4 linked regions of the Homo sapiens genome follow. The protein of the gene in region 4 purifies or fractionates together with the protein of the main gene of each other region. This does not show direct contact. Each region holds a gene or a part of one and is shown on either strand. Other genes may lie near its edges.

Evidence for each region. Proteins that work in one complex are often made in the same cells at the same time.
Region 1: the proteins of FLRT1 (region 4) and TMEM209 purify together in Homo sapiens (affinity purification with mass spectrometry; one large-scale study listed by BioGRID and IntAct). This does not show direct contact.
Region 2: the proteins of FLRT1 (region 4) and FGFR1 purify together in Homo sapiens (affinity purification with western blotting; 2 studies listed by BioGRID and IntAct, with this or other methods). This does not show direct contact.
Region 3: the proteins of FLRT1 (region 4) and PCDHGC3 purify together in Homo sapiens (affinity purification with mass spectrometry; 2 studies listed by BioGRID and IntAct, with this or other methods). This does not show direct contact.

What each region holds. Positions count from the first base shown.
Region 1 is NC_000007.14:130,198,907-130,202,406, reverse strand, and holds part of TMEM209 (transmembrane protein 209), read left to right. Parts: intron 1-315; coding exon 316-557; intron 558-2,110; exon of another isoform or gene 2,111-2,563; intron 2,564-3,500. UniProt on the Homo sapiens protein: Nuclear envelope protein which in association with NUP205, may be involved in nuclear transport of various nuclear proteins in addition to MYC.
Region 2 is NC_000008.11:38,416,636-38,420,135, reverse strand, and holds part of FGFR1 (fibroblast growth factor receptor 1 isoform 1 precursor), read left to right. Parts: intron 1-400; coding exon 401-603; intron 604-1,762; coding exon 1,763-1,908; intron 1,909-2,144; coding exon 2,145-2,266; intron 2,267-2,719; coding exon 2,720-2,830; intron 2,831-3,500. UniProt on the Homo sapiens protein: Tyrosine-protein kinase that acts as a cell-surface receptor for fibroblast growth factors and plays an essential role in the regulation of embryonic development, cell proliferation, differentiation and migration.
Region 3 is NC_000005.10:141,478,966-141,482,465, forward strand, and holds part of PCDHGC3 (protocadherin gamma-C3 isoform 1 precursor), read left to right. Parts: intron 1-3,500. UniProt on the Homo sapiens protein: Potential calcium-dependent cell-adhesion protein. May be involved in the establishment and maintenance of specific neuronal connections in the brain.
Region 4 is NC_000011.10:64,038,931-64,042,430, forward strand, and holds part of FLRT1 (leucine-rich repeat transmembrane protein FLRT1), read left to right. Parts: intron 1-3,500.

The DNA of each region.
Region 1 (3,500 bases), on a different chromosome or scaffold from region 4:
AAATTGTCTTATGACCAATGATTATCATTCCTACTTGTATACATTCAGCTATTTCATGGAAGTTTGTTCCATTGTTCAGGTGCAATTAAAATTAAATGACTAACTTGCTGAGTTGAAACCAGTTTCTAATTTTGCACTCTGGAAATGGTAAACACGTAATTTGTGTCCTTTGGTAATAATACATTCTGTGATTTAACAACCAAGTAACTCTGTTAACTTTTTTCCCTTAAGAGAAAGACTTAGTTGCTTAAATATATTTTCGTATAATTTTATTTGAAGGTACATACACATATGTTGCTTTTTTTTTCCTTCTAGTTGTACAGACTACGCCTCCACATGATCTGGCAGCAACCCAAATCCCTCCCGCTCCACCTTCCCCTTCAATTCAGGGTCAGAGTGTGTTGAGTTATAGCCCTTCTCGTTCGCCCAGTACCAGTCCCAAGTTCACCACCAGCTGTATGACTGGTTACAGCCCTCAGCTGCAAGGTCTGTCCTCAGGTGGCAGTGGTTCTTATAGCCCTGGAGTGACCTACTCGCCCGTCAGTGGTTATAATAAGGTAATGACTCTCTTCTCTTGTCTAGTCACATTATTTTAGAATTGAGAGGTATACTAAAAATCATCTAATGAGTCAAAACTTATCAGTGAGCAAACTGAGAGTTGATTTGCCCAGAACACCCATTTAAAAACCGAGAATAGAACATAATATCTTAAACACAACATCTTAAAATGAAAGAGAAAAAATTAGCATTTACAGAGATAACAAACTTAGTGCACCATCTACGATCTTTCAGCTGTCTTTAAAACAAGTTGAAACAAGGATAATTTTTTACTTTAGTTGCTTTTACTCCTGTTTTCCCTCTTGCTTTCCTTCTTCATGTGAGGCCTTTGTATACCTTTTTAGAGTTTTAGTGTGGTTTATCATGTTGGAGTGTCTTCTAAGCTAAAAGCTGAGATTGTCACATAGTTTCTTTTTTTTTTCCAATGAGTACAAATGATTCTTGAATATGGACGCTTTCCATGGAATAGTAGGAACCTTCATTTCCACTCCCACAGTAATGTGAAATTTTGTTCTAATTTTTAGGATTAATAGAAACAGGATTGACAAATTGAAATTTTGACTCCTTCTTGAAGCATAAAACTATTAATATAAGGGGGCGTTGAAAGAAGAGTGGTCATTTCAGATGCTGTCGCTACTGTGTTCGACTAACATCTCTGTAGCTGCTAGTTAAAAGAGGAGTCTCTGGAGATGAAACTGACACATTGTCTGCCCTTATCCATTTACATATTTCTTTTTTTTTTTTTTTTTTTTTTTTTTTTGAGACAGAGTCTCGCTCTGTTGCCTAGACTGGAGTGCAGTGGCGTGATCTCAGCTCACTGCAAACTCCGCCTCCCGGGCTCATGCCATTCTCCTGCCTCAGCCTCCCGAGTAGCTGGGACTACAGGCGTCCACCACCGTGCCCGGCTAATTTTTTGTACTTTCAGTAGAGACGGGGTTTCGCCATGTTAGCCAGGATGGTCTCGATCTCCTGACCTTGCGATCTGCCCTCCTCGACCTCCCAAACATTTACACATTTCTTTGTAATGAAATTCCATACTACTGGTTATCCAATATTAAAATTAATTTTGGCAGGTAATAGAATTTTGAAAATTTTGTACAAGTTAAATTTTTATGAGAAAGTATATATGTAGTGAAAATTAATAACTCATAGGTAAATGTGACTTTTAAAAATAATTTTTCACAAGATGATACTATATGATCCTTATAGAAAATTGGAAAAGTAAAACAGAAGGAAAATTATTATAGTCCTGCCACACAAAAATAATCTGTTTAATGGCTATTTAATACTCATCTAATGGATATACCATAATTTACTCTTGAATGTTTAAGTCATTTTCATTTATAAAAAAACTTTTTAATGTATACTAAATAGCCCTGTACATAAAATTATTGATAAATTTGGGATGGGAGTGTCGATCCAAAAGAATTGTACCAATTTACATTGTCACAGAAATGTAGAAGAGTGTTTGTTTTACCACACTGTTGACCATCAAGTTAATTTTTTAAAAAAATAAATCTCTGCTAATAAGAAACATGACAATAGTCTATCGTAACTTTTAACATACATTTATTTCAAAGCCGCATAGCTAAATCAGGAAGTTCTCGTGCTTTACTCGCTTGTCTTTTGGGTCTGTATCCTCTGATTTTTTTTCTTGGGTTGCTGTTTAATTATAGAGTTTAATATATATATATATAGAGAGAGAGAAACTTTAAATGTTTAATAGTCCTATCTGTTTATCTCCTTGTGGTTTGCTCTGTTTTTAAATTTAGAAATTTTCTTACTTTCAGAATTGATTCCCCTCCCCACCATAATATAAGATGATAATTTTCTCATTTTTGTTTTTTGCTAAAATTGATAACTAGTTGTCCCAATATTATAAATTATTTTTACCTTGATTGACTTGGAGCCTCCTTTGAATTACATGTGATTTGTCTTTTTCGGGGTGATTCTGTTCACTTGCTGTGTTTTTAGTGCTGTGTGTAGCAGTTTCATTGTGGACTGACTGTTAGAAGAGTTAACAAAAAATGTTAAATACTATTGCATTTTTGCTTCAAAAACAGATAAATCATAGCTTATGTTCTATTTGTACAAAAGAAGTGACACCACCAAAATATAATTTTTATTTTTAAAGAAATAATTTTTTTCTTATGTTAACTCTCCCTTTGTACCCACTCTTTTCCAGTCATTTCTTCTGCCTTGTACATCTTTGTATTTATAAGTTAGAGGGAAAAAATAATGAGTTGAGTTTTTTTTACCTTAGTAATCTTTCTTTTTTTAAAATCTTAAAAGATATGTCAGGAAATTATCAAAAGAAAGTAAAGGTGACGGCTGGGCGCAGCGGGTCACGCCTGTAATCCCAGCACTTTGGGAGGCCGAGGCAGGCGGGTCACAAGGTCAGGAGATCAAGACCATCCTGGCTAACATGTTGAAACCCTGTCTCTACTAAACAAAATACAAAAAATTAGCCAGGTGTGGTGGCGGGCGCCTGTAGTCGCAGCTACTCGGGAGGCTGAGGCAGGAGAATGGCGTGAACCAGGAAGGCGGAGCTTTCAGTGAGCCGAGATGGCTCGCTGCACTCCAGCCTGGGCGACACAGCAAGACTCTGTCTCAAAAAAAAAATAAAAAAATTAAAAAGGTGACAAAGGCATATCAGGAAAGCATAAAAATAAGGTGGTAGTATTAACAATGAATAACTTTAGAGGAGGAAGAATTATATGAGACAAAAGGTCATTTTAAGTTGATGGAAGAAATAATAAAATAATAGTTAGATTCACAATCCCTGTATATTGAATAATACAGCATCATAAAATGTAAAACAAAAACCTTTAGAAACATGAAATCAATAAACACAATTGTATTGGAAGACTTTAGCATTATCAATGTCTGATAAAGTAGGCAACAAATAAGGACACAAAAGATTGGAACAGTAAAATTTAATA
Region 2 (3,500 bases), on a different chromosome or scaffold from region 4:
CTGAGGCTTTGCAGAGAAGGGCCATGGCTCCCTGAGGAGACCAAGAAAGGCACATAGAAGTGACTTCTCAGCTGGCCCTTGCAGGATCCCTGGGTGCCTGTACCTCTCCAGTCCAGCTGAGCAAGGAGGCTCAGGAATTAATGAAGATGGGGCTTGTGTAGCACGATGGTTCTAGGCCATCCCTTTTCCATGGCTCAAGTCCATTGAAGGCAGCCTCCAAAATCAGGGGGTTGCCTGATCCTCCTAGTGCCACAATCCCAGTCCTAGCTAGAACTTGCCATGGTTCTTCTCCCTAAAAGTTCCCAGGGGACAGGAGACAGGTGTTGCTTTTCTAATGGAGCGGGACCTCGCATGGACGGGGCCCTCCAAGCCTGCTAACACCCTGTTCGCACTGACTCAGCCCTGGAAGAGAGGCCGGCAGTGATGACCTCGCCCCTGTACCTGGAGATCATCATCTATTGCACAGGGGCCTTCCTCATCTCCTGCATGGTGGGGTCGGTCATCGTCTACAAGATGAAGAGTGGTACCAAGAAGAGTGACTTCCACAGCCAGATGGCTGTGCACAAGCTGGCCAAGAGCATCCCTCTGCGCAGACAGGTAACAGAAAGTAGATGGGGGATTTGCACACTCAGCACCACCTCTCTCTCTGGGCCTCTAATGCCCTGCCCTCTCCATTGTCCCTAATTTATAGCTTTGGGCCTTATTTTCTGGCTTCTGGGCAAGGCACAGTGGAATATCATGAACTAAGTGCTCTAGAGTCTGTTTCAAGCTAGTGTAGCCCGTGAATTTCCTGCACCCTCCATATCACACTGCAAGTCCTCCGGACTCCTGGGACATGGATTGGGAGGAAGTCCTATTTGGACAGAATGTGCAGCCAATAGCATGAATTTGAACTGTCCCCAAGGGCTGCTTAGAAGTGCAGAGATGCAGGGTAGAGAAGAGAACTGTTTGTATTAGTCCATTTTCACACTGCTGAGAAAGACATACCCAAGACCGGGCAATTTACAAAAGAAAGAGGTTTAATGGACTCACAGTTCCACGTGGCTGGGGAGGCCTCACAATTGCAGAAGGCAAAAGGCACGTCTCACATGGCGGCAGACGAGAAGAGAGCTTGTACAGGGAAACTCCCCTTTATAAAATCATCAGATCTCGTGAGATTTATTCACTATCACAAGAACAGCACAGGGAAGACCTGCCCCCATGAGTCAATGACCTCCTACCAGGTCCCTCCCATAACACGTGGGAATTCAAGATGAGATTTGGGTGGGGACACAGCCAAACCATCTCAGCCATACCATACCCTTGTCCCCTGTGTGCCCACCCTTCCCCACGGGAGGAAATGGTACAGATGGCACAGGTGTGTGCAAGAATGACCGTTCCCTCAGAAGCCTGTGCTCATTCTGGAAGGTGCTTTGGGAGTTAGGAATCCATAAGCTAAGGCAAAGTATTTGCAAAGAGTCAGGAGAACAGAGTTGTTACTGCAATGATCAGTTATAAAATGTCAAGCTGGAAGAGGTGCATTTGGTCTGCTTATTTTAAAGGTGAGTGAAGTCCAGAAAGGCCAGCTTGTGGCAGAAATAGGTCAGTCCTAGAAGTTGGGCCTCCTGGCCTACCATGGTCTTTGGACCACTCTGTGTTGAGGAAAGAACATCAGATACACAGACATGTGCCTCTGCCATTGTTGGGAAGCCCTGACTAAGAATGGGAAGGAGTCACCCCGTCCCCCCTCCTTGCTCTAGGGTGACCCCACTCTTCCTTGCAGGTGTCTGCTGACTCCAGTGCATCCATGAACTCTGGGGTTCTTCTGGTTCGGCCATCACGGCTCTCCTCCAGTGGGACTCCCATGCTAGCAGGGGTCTCTGAGTATGAGCTTCCCGAAGACCCTCGCTGGGAGCTGCCTCGGGACAGGTAATAATACTTTGACTCCCAACTTTTTGAAGGCATTCCTTGCTTGCTATTCTAGTGGTGGAAGGTGTGTATACTAACACCTTCTGGGCGGTGAAGGTTCATGAAATGCCTGCAGAAACATTCATTCCACTTTCTGCTCGCAGTTGGGTGAAATACAGAGAGGTGGAGATGGGGTGCCTCTCAAGGTTTGAACTTCACCAGCCCCAACTTATGCCACTCTCTGTTTCCCCCGAAAGACTGGTCTTAGGCAAACCCCTGGGAGAGGGCTGCTTTGGGCAGGTGGTGTTGGCAGAGGCTATCGGGCTGGACAAGGACAAACCCAACCGTGTGACCAAAGTGGCTGTGAAGATGTTGAAGTGTAAGTGATGCTTCTGTCCTTGCAAAGAAAATCTTGTCCCATTCCAAGCAAACAGCAGGCCTCGGGCCCAGCAGAACAGCTTCTCTGGTGCCTTTGCTGCCCACACCTGCTCCGCTGCCTGCTTGGGGTTACCTGGGAGTGGAGGGGGTGTTCTGCACCTTGAGATTGTTCTATGACGTCACTCTGTTCCTTGGCGTCAACCTGGGCTGTGGTCAGGTGTTTATCCTGGATCCATCGCTTGCAGGCTTTCCTCACCACATCCCTGCCCACTCACTACCACCTATTGCAACAACGGCTCCCATGAGAGGGAAGAGAAAACAAGTTTGGATGAAGTGGGGAGGAGAGAATCAAGTCCCAGGGAAAAGCAGCCCCTCGACACATACCCCACTCCCTTAGCCTTTATCCTGCCCTCCTCCCTTCCCAAGTAAATGAGTCTCAACGTGTTCTTTAAAGCGGACGCAACAGAGAAAGACTTGTCAGACCTGATCTCAGAAATGGAGATGATGAAGATGATCGGGAAGCATAAGAATATCATCAACCTGCTGGGGGCCTGCACGCAGGATGGTGGGTGCCGGCCAGACTGGCTTTCCCTGCCCAGCGGGGAGAAGATCTGAGCTGGGGTATCAGTCCCAAGGCCTCTCTCAGCCACAGCTAGGGAAGGGGGTTAAGAGAGGCTGCTTTGGCAGAGGTTTAAAATGTGTTATCTCGGGATCTGGGCTCCGCTCATTGGTGTTCATTCAGGAATACAGATACCTAGATTCACACACGTGGTGTGTTAACAGAGGCAGCTGAGTAATTATGGTCTAAGAGCGCTCAGGCTGGGTGCAGTGGCTCATGCCTGTAATCCCAGCAATTTGGGAGGCCGAGGCAGGAAGATCACTTGAGATCAGGAGTTCGAGACCAGTCTGGTCAAAATGGTGAAACCCCATCTCTACTAAAAAATACAAAAGTTAGCCAGGCATGGTCACGCATGCCTATAATCCCAGCTACTCAGGAGGCTGACGCATAAGACTTGCTTGAACCCGGGAGGTGGAGGTTGCAGTGAGCCAAGATCACGCCATTGTACTCCAGCTTGGGAGATACTCCCGCTGTCTCAAAAATAAAATAAATAAATAGGCCAGGCACAGTGGCTCACGCCTGTAATCCCAGCACCTTGGGAGGGTGAGGCGGGTGGATCACTTGAGGTCAGGAGTTGGAGACCAGCCTGGCCAACAGGTGAAACCCCATCTCTACT
Region 3 (3,500 bases), on a different chromosome or scaffold from region 4:
TTTCAAGTGATTGTGACATTTGTATTAAAACTAATAGCTTTTTGATAATTTTCCTTTGTTTATACAGATCGTGTACCTCATTCTCAGATAATTTTTTATGAATGAAATGAAATTCCAGGCATCCTTTAAATTTTATTTCAAGCATTCTACTGGAAATGATGTGCACCCTGCTTACAAAATATTTTTACCTTATAACAGTAATGCATGTTTGCTAGAAAATTCAGAAAATACAGAAAAGTATTTAAAAAATTAAAACTATAATCTCCAAACCCAAAGATAACCATTTTTAATTATAAAAGTAATAATTTATTTCAAAAATAAATCTAGGCAACCCAAGAAAACATAAAGTAGCCAGACTCAGTGGTGTGCACCTGTAGTTCTTGCTGCTCAGTGCCTGAGGTGGGAGGATTGCTTGAGCCCAGGAGTTCTGGGCTGTGGTGCACTATGCTGATCAATTGATCAATCCACTGTCTGCACTAAGTTCAGCATGAATACAGTGACCTCTTGGGAGGGCAGGACCATCAGGTTGCCTAAAGAGGGGTGAACTGGCCCAGGTTGGAAGTGGAGAAGGTCAAAACTGCTGTGCTATCCAGTAGTGGGATGACATCTGTGAATAGCCACTGCACTCCAGCCTAGGCAATATAGGGAAACCATGTCTCTTTAACAATAACAACAACAACAACAACAATCCCAGAAACTACAAAAGGAGAGTCTTTTTGGTGCCTCCAGTGTTAGTCCCTGTCCTTCCAGCCTTATTTTTCTTAAGTATATGCACAATGTGAAAGGTAGATAAATTCATATCCTTAGACAGGTAAAGCATTCATTAATTCAGGGTGGTATGCAAGGATACTATCCAAGGCATGGTATCCATGCAAGGTGACTGCAAGGCCTTTGCCCTGGAGAGAACCCTATACATACTCTCAACTGTAGGAGAAACACTGTTATTTTGTTACTCAGTGCATCATTGCTATCAACTCTTGGATTTGGCAGTTAGTCAAATGAGGTTCTACCATTTACCAACTAGGAGTCTGTGGCCAAGTTACTCAATCTCCTTTCTAAGCCTCTTCCTCATATGCAAAAAGGGAATAATAAGTGTTTTATAAGATTCATGCATGATATAATGTATGCAAAGTGTTTAGCATGGTGCCTGGCATATCATAACTGTTAAACAATTATTAGCCAGCTCCTAGCATTTTGGGAGGCTGAGGCAGGCGGATTGCTTGAGGCCAGCAGTTCAAGACCAGCCTGAGCGACATAGTGAGATCCTGTCTCTACAAAAAAAAAAAAAAATGTGTTTTCATTAGCTGGGTGTGTTGGCATGCACCTGTGGTACCAGCTACTTGGGAGGCTGAAGTGGGAGAATTGCTTGAGCCTGGGAGGTTGAAGCTACAGTCAGCTGTGATTGCACCACTACACTTCAACCATGGCAATAGAGTGAGACCCTGTCTCAAAAAAAAAAATTATCAGCTATTACTATAATTATTTTTATTAGTTCCTCACTCACCTAAAATCTCAAACACACCTTAGAAATACACATATGAGAACAACCAAAAATGACAAAGTAGAAGCACATATGAAAAGGCTAAGAAAGCATGAAAGCCAGCAAGAAATAACTGCCGCTCTTCTGGTCAGCCTGGAAAGCAACTGGCATTTTCCCTAGAACAATGTTTTCAAACTTGGTTGCACATTAAAATCACCTAGAGACCTTTTAAAAATTCTGAAACCCAGGCCACACCCCGACAAATGAAAGCACAGTCTCTGGGGGTGGGACATAGGCATCATTTTTTGAAGGTCCCCACTTGATCCTAATGTGCAGACAAATTTGAAAACCACAGCTTTGGGAGGCTGAGGTGGGTGGATCATAAGATCAGGAGTTTGAGACCAGCCTGGCCAATATGGTGAAACCCCGTCTCTACTAAAAATGCAAACATTAGCTGGGCATGGTGGCGCATACCTGTAGTCCCAGCTACTCTAGAGGCTGAGGCGGAAGCATCAGTGAGGGAGAATCAGTGAACCCAGGATGTGGAAGTTTCAGTGAGCCCAGATCACACCACTGCACTCCAGCCTGGGCGACAGAGCGAGACTCCACCTCAAAAACAAAAAGAAAGAAAGAAAAAAGAAAAGCAGTACTCTGGAACCTACCAATCCATCATTTAGCATATTTGTGAAGTAAAGTGTTATTCTGGTATTTGCAGAACCAGAATCCAGCTTTATTGGGCCAGGCCCAATTTTTTTAAAAAACATGGTAAGGTCTCCCAGCCTTAAAGTATTACATAGCATAGCTCTAAAAGATCACTGTAGGAAGACATAAAATGGTATTTCAGTCATCTAAGGGAAAAACCTTCCTAAAGCACTAGCCCCTGGACAACTATTATTTAAACATCTACAGCTGTTCAATAGATATTGGGTTCTTTTTGGAGGGATGTGACAAAATTCTTGTATAATTAGATTGTGATGATGATTGTATCAGTTTAGTACATGTAAATACACTGAAAACCATTGGATTATACACTTTAAATATGTGATTTGCATGGTATGTGAATTATGTCTCAGTAAAAATCTAGAGATGGGGCTGGGCTCAGTGGCTCACGCCTGTAATCCCAGTACTTAGGGAGGCTGAGGCCAGCGGATCACCTGAGGCCAGGAGTTCAAGACCGGCCTGGCCAACATGGTGAAACTTCATCTCTACTAATAATACAAAAATCAGGCCGGGCCTGGTGGCTCACGCCTGTAATCCCAGCACTTTGGGAGGCGGAGGCGGGCGGATCACGAGGTCAGGAGTCCAAGACCAGCCTGGCCAACATGGTGAAACCCCGTCTCTACTAAAAATACAAAAATTCACCAGGCGTGGTGGCTGAGGCAGGAGAATCGCTTGATGGTGGAGGTTGCAGTGAGCCGAGATCGCGCCACTGCACTCCAGCCTGGGTGAAAGAGCGAAACTCCATCTCAAAAAAAAAAAAAAAAAAAAAATCAGCCAGATGTGGTGGCAGGTGCCTGTAGTCACAGCTACTTGGGAGGTTGAAGCAGGAGAATCGCTTTATCTCAGGAAGCAGAGGTTGCAGTGAGCCAAGATCATGCTGTTGCATTCCAGCCTGGGCAACAAGAACAAAACTCACTCCATCTCAAAAAAAAAAAAAAAATATCTAGAGATGGGAGAATCATATGGCTGGCATAAAAAGGTCAAGTCAAAGATATGTAAGATTAAGGCTTTACGATGCTCCAGTTCTAGTAAAACAGACCAGGTACTTGTTTTGGTGTGAAATTGCCAATATAAGTATAGTACTGTACATATTAGTTGTTTAGCTTAGGTAAGTCTTTTAATCTCTTTAAACTCCAGTTTCCTCATCTATAAAATAAAGAGAATATCTACTTTGCAAACTTGTTGTGAGAGTGAAAAGTAATGCATATAAAGTCCCTGTATGGAGCAAGTACTCAATAACTATTTGTTGAACTAAAAATGATAATACTGATATTCACCATTTATTAGCATCCCTATGTGC
Region 4 (3,500 bases):
ACCCACGTTGAGAGGATGCGTATGAGGTTTCTAGCAGAGTTCATGCCTAGCAATGTGGGGCCCTTGCCTAGTCTACACCCCTCGTTCACTGTGGGCCAAGGGCTTTCAGCTTCTTCAGGCCTTGGGGTGGCAGGGAGGACTGAGGTGGCCCTCATCCCCTGCAGGCAGGGGCCATCCACTCTGGTACCTGGCCCAAGGGGCAGTGGGAAATGCCCCAGAGCAAGGGGGAGCTGGAGGGCTTTTGCTGAGGCCCCTTATAGGATGGGGTGCGTGAGGCATGTGGGTGAGCGAGCGTGGGTGGACAAGAAGGGGCGTGGGTGTGGCGAGGGTGCTAACTGCCTATAGTGGGGTGGGTGGGGACTGCCCCGGGGGTAGCTTTCCCTGCTCACTGGCAGAGGAGAGCGCCAGCCTCTGGGAGGCCCAGGCCCCAGGCCCTGGCTGCTGCCCCCGGTGTACTGCCTTCCAAGTGTGTTTGAGGTCGGGTGGTAGCGGGGGGTCCCTCCTCAGAACCTGTGTTGTTCTGCCGGAGACAAAGTTCAGGCTCTGGCTGGCCCACGAGGCAGCTGCATTCTGTCCTCTGCCATGGGACACTCACCCTGAGAGGGCCAGGGCTGTGGTGTGGGGCAGACTGGATGGCCGGGAGGAGACGGGAAAAGGACAGCACCCCTGTTTTGCCCTCCTCCCCCCGGACAGCCTGCCTGGAGTTCTCTGGCAGCAGCTGGAGACACCAAGAGGGTTCCATGGAGCAGGCTGTGTTTGTGCAGGCCTGTGTTTGCCTGTTTACCATCGCTCGAGGCCCCCAGAGCACTGCCGCTCCCCGGGGCCAGCGGCTCTGCAGATGATGTCAGGGTTTGGGGGCCTCTCCTTGCTTTGTGGAGGTTGTTTGCTGGATTCCTGCAGCCCTGGGTTTTAAAATGACAACCTGCAGAGCTGGTGGCTAGTGAGGGTGGGGGAGAGGACAGGGAGGAGGATGGGTGGGAGTTTGGGGCTGAAGCCATGGAGGATAAATGGGCTGGCCCACCAGTGCTCCTCTGGCACGCCTGGCTCCCTGGCTCTTCTGTTTTCCCTTCCCTCACTCCTTCCCTCCTTTCCTGCTCATTCATTCATTCATTCATTCATTCTTGAGATAATCATTGAGCATTAGTTATTGCCAGGCACAGTGCTGGGCTCTGGGACAAAAGTGGGGAACAAAAGCAGTGGGTGTCTTGCCCTCAGGGCGCTTCCAGTCAGATGTGGTGTCAGACATTAGTCAGATCTACCTCTTCCCCGTGAAGCCTTGGCTCTGAAGGCGCAAAGTGGTGAGGTCAAGTAACAGAGGGGCCTGCTGAGGGGTGGGATTGAGGGGGACTTCCCAGGGAAGGGGGTGCTTAAGACATGAAGAGTGAGCTGGAGCCAGGGAAGGGCAGGGACAGAAACAAGGGCCTGGAGGACAGGATGGATGGAGAGGGCTGCATGGAGACCCCCGGCAGGAGGGCAGAGGGGCTCAAGGCACCCGGCCAGGGCTGGGGCTGGTGGGCTGTCTCCCTGGGTCTCTGTGGCCCATCCATCCCCAGCTCTCTCAGGATTCCTGGGTCTGCCTCAGGGACCCTCTGCCTGTCCTTGCAGATGGGCCTCTGGAAGAGTGGGCTTCCTAGGCCCGGGATGCCAGGTCCCCTTTTCCCGAGAGCTGTGTGTTCACCTGCGTAGACAGGTTGCCCCAGCATCTGATGGGCTGTGAGACAAATGTGGGCTTGTTTATGACGGGGGCGGTAGCCCTGGGTGGACCGAGAGCTATTAGTGATGAAGGAGAGTCCGCAGAAACCCTCCCCAGCCCTGAATGTTCCCGGTGCAGGGAAGTGGGCTGGGGTGCAGGCAGAGGGAGAAGGGAGTGAAGGGGCTGTGTCCTGGAGGGCCCCGGACCCGGCTGTATGGGGCTCAGCTAGCCACTAGGGGACACTGCCTCCCAGGCAGACCGCAGGACCCAGGCATCCGACGTCCGGCCAGGCCCCAGGTGTGGCAGGCTCTGCTTCAAGGGGTCAAAGGGCATCCTCATGGGCAGACGGGGTCTATTGTCTGGCTGGCAGGGAGGCAGTGGCCGGGCTGGTTGGGGATGGCTTATACTTAATTAAAACTGGGATTAAAACTGGGGTCACGGGGCGCTAGTCCTGGCCATTCCTGCCCGCGTCACTCTCCAGAGGCAGCTCTGTGGCAGTATTTTTTTCACGCCCCTTTCCCTCCTTCTGCCTGAATTAATCGTTGGCACCAGATTACAACAGATTTAGCAAACTGTAAAAAAAAAAAAAAAAAAAAAAAAAAAAAAGCATGAGCGAGAGAGGAAGAGAGAAAAGAAAGGAGGGAATGCCTTCCGTGAGGAGCCGGCATTTATCTCCAGAAGCAAATTGCTCTTCTTGAACCATTCCTGCTGCCCCCCACCCCTCCACCCCCCGTGACGCCTGGGAAATGCTGCTCGGGAAAATGTCCTCAAAAATGCTGCCGGGTGCTGGAACCAGGAGGGGCTTTTCCTGGGGGAGGTCAGCCAGGGGCTGAGGAGGAGAGGAGAGCTCAGGGGAGTGAGGAGGGTGCCCGGGGCTGCTCTGGAGGGTGTGTTGGGGGACACCTGGCTGGTTCTGAGTGGTCGCAGAGGTGGGGCTTCGTGTAGGGCAGAGCGAGTGAACAGATGAATGAATGGAAAAAGGGGTGCAGCCAGGACCGAATGACCGCCTCGGGAGCTGGTGTGGTGGCAGTGGAGGGTCCAGCCTGCCCATCAGGATTCCTAGGGACAAAATCCGAGGGACTGAGCTCTCTCAAGCGACATAGCATCTTGGGTCTTGGATCCAATTCCACTTCTCTCTGGTCAGACCAGAGGGGGCCTGGCTTTGGTTCAGGGAATCTGGCTGTTAGGGGGTGGGTGTCTGGCCCTAGGGACATGGCAAGTCGCAGAGGGTCACGGGAGTTTCACCTCAAGGCTGAGGGTGCCCCGCCCAGTTAAAGCACAGGAGTGAGATTCGGTGGGCTGAGAGCCCCTGGGCTCCTAGCCTGGGCTGGGCTGCCCCACCCTGAGTGGGGACTTGGGTTCAGTGGGGGGCAGTTAGGGGCCCACCCTTCCTTCTTCGCTCACTCACTCTCTCGGGCAGCGGCCATGGTGGGCCAGGCCTGGAGCTGGCCACAGGGAAGGTGGCGGTGGCCCAGTCCAGTGGGACCAGGCGGGAGGGGGAGACAGATGTGCACCACGCTCACACCTCTGGTGGGCACACATGCACCTTCATGCACACACTCTTGCACACACATGCTCACACCTAACCCACCTTCCTCTCCTGTCTTCCCTGAGCCAGCCTGAGCCAGGCTCTGAGGTGAATGAAGCCCACATCTCACCCCCACCTCTGGAAGCTGCCACGAGGAAGGGGCTGGAGTGGCTGCCCCACCCTTCCCGTGCAGTCCCCTGCCCTTCCTGCCCCCAGACAGTGGCCATCTGTTGCCCAGGCCTGGACCCCTCTCTGGGGAATGGGGGGGTGTGAAGGAAT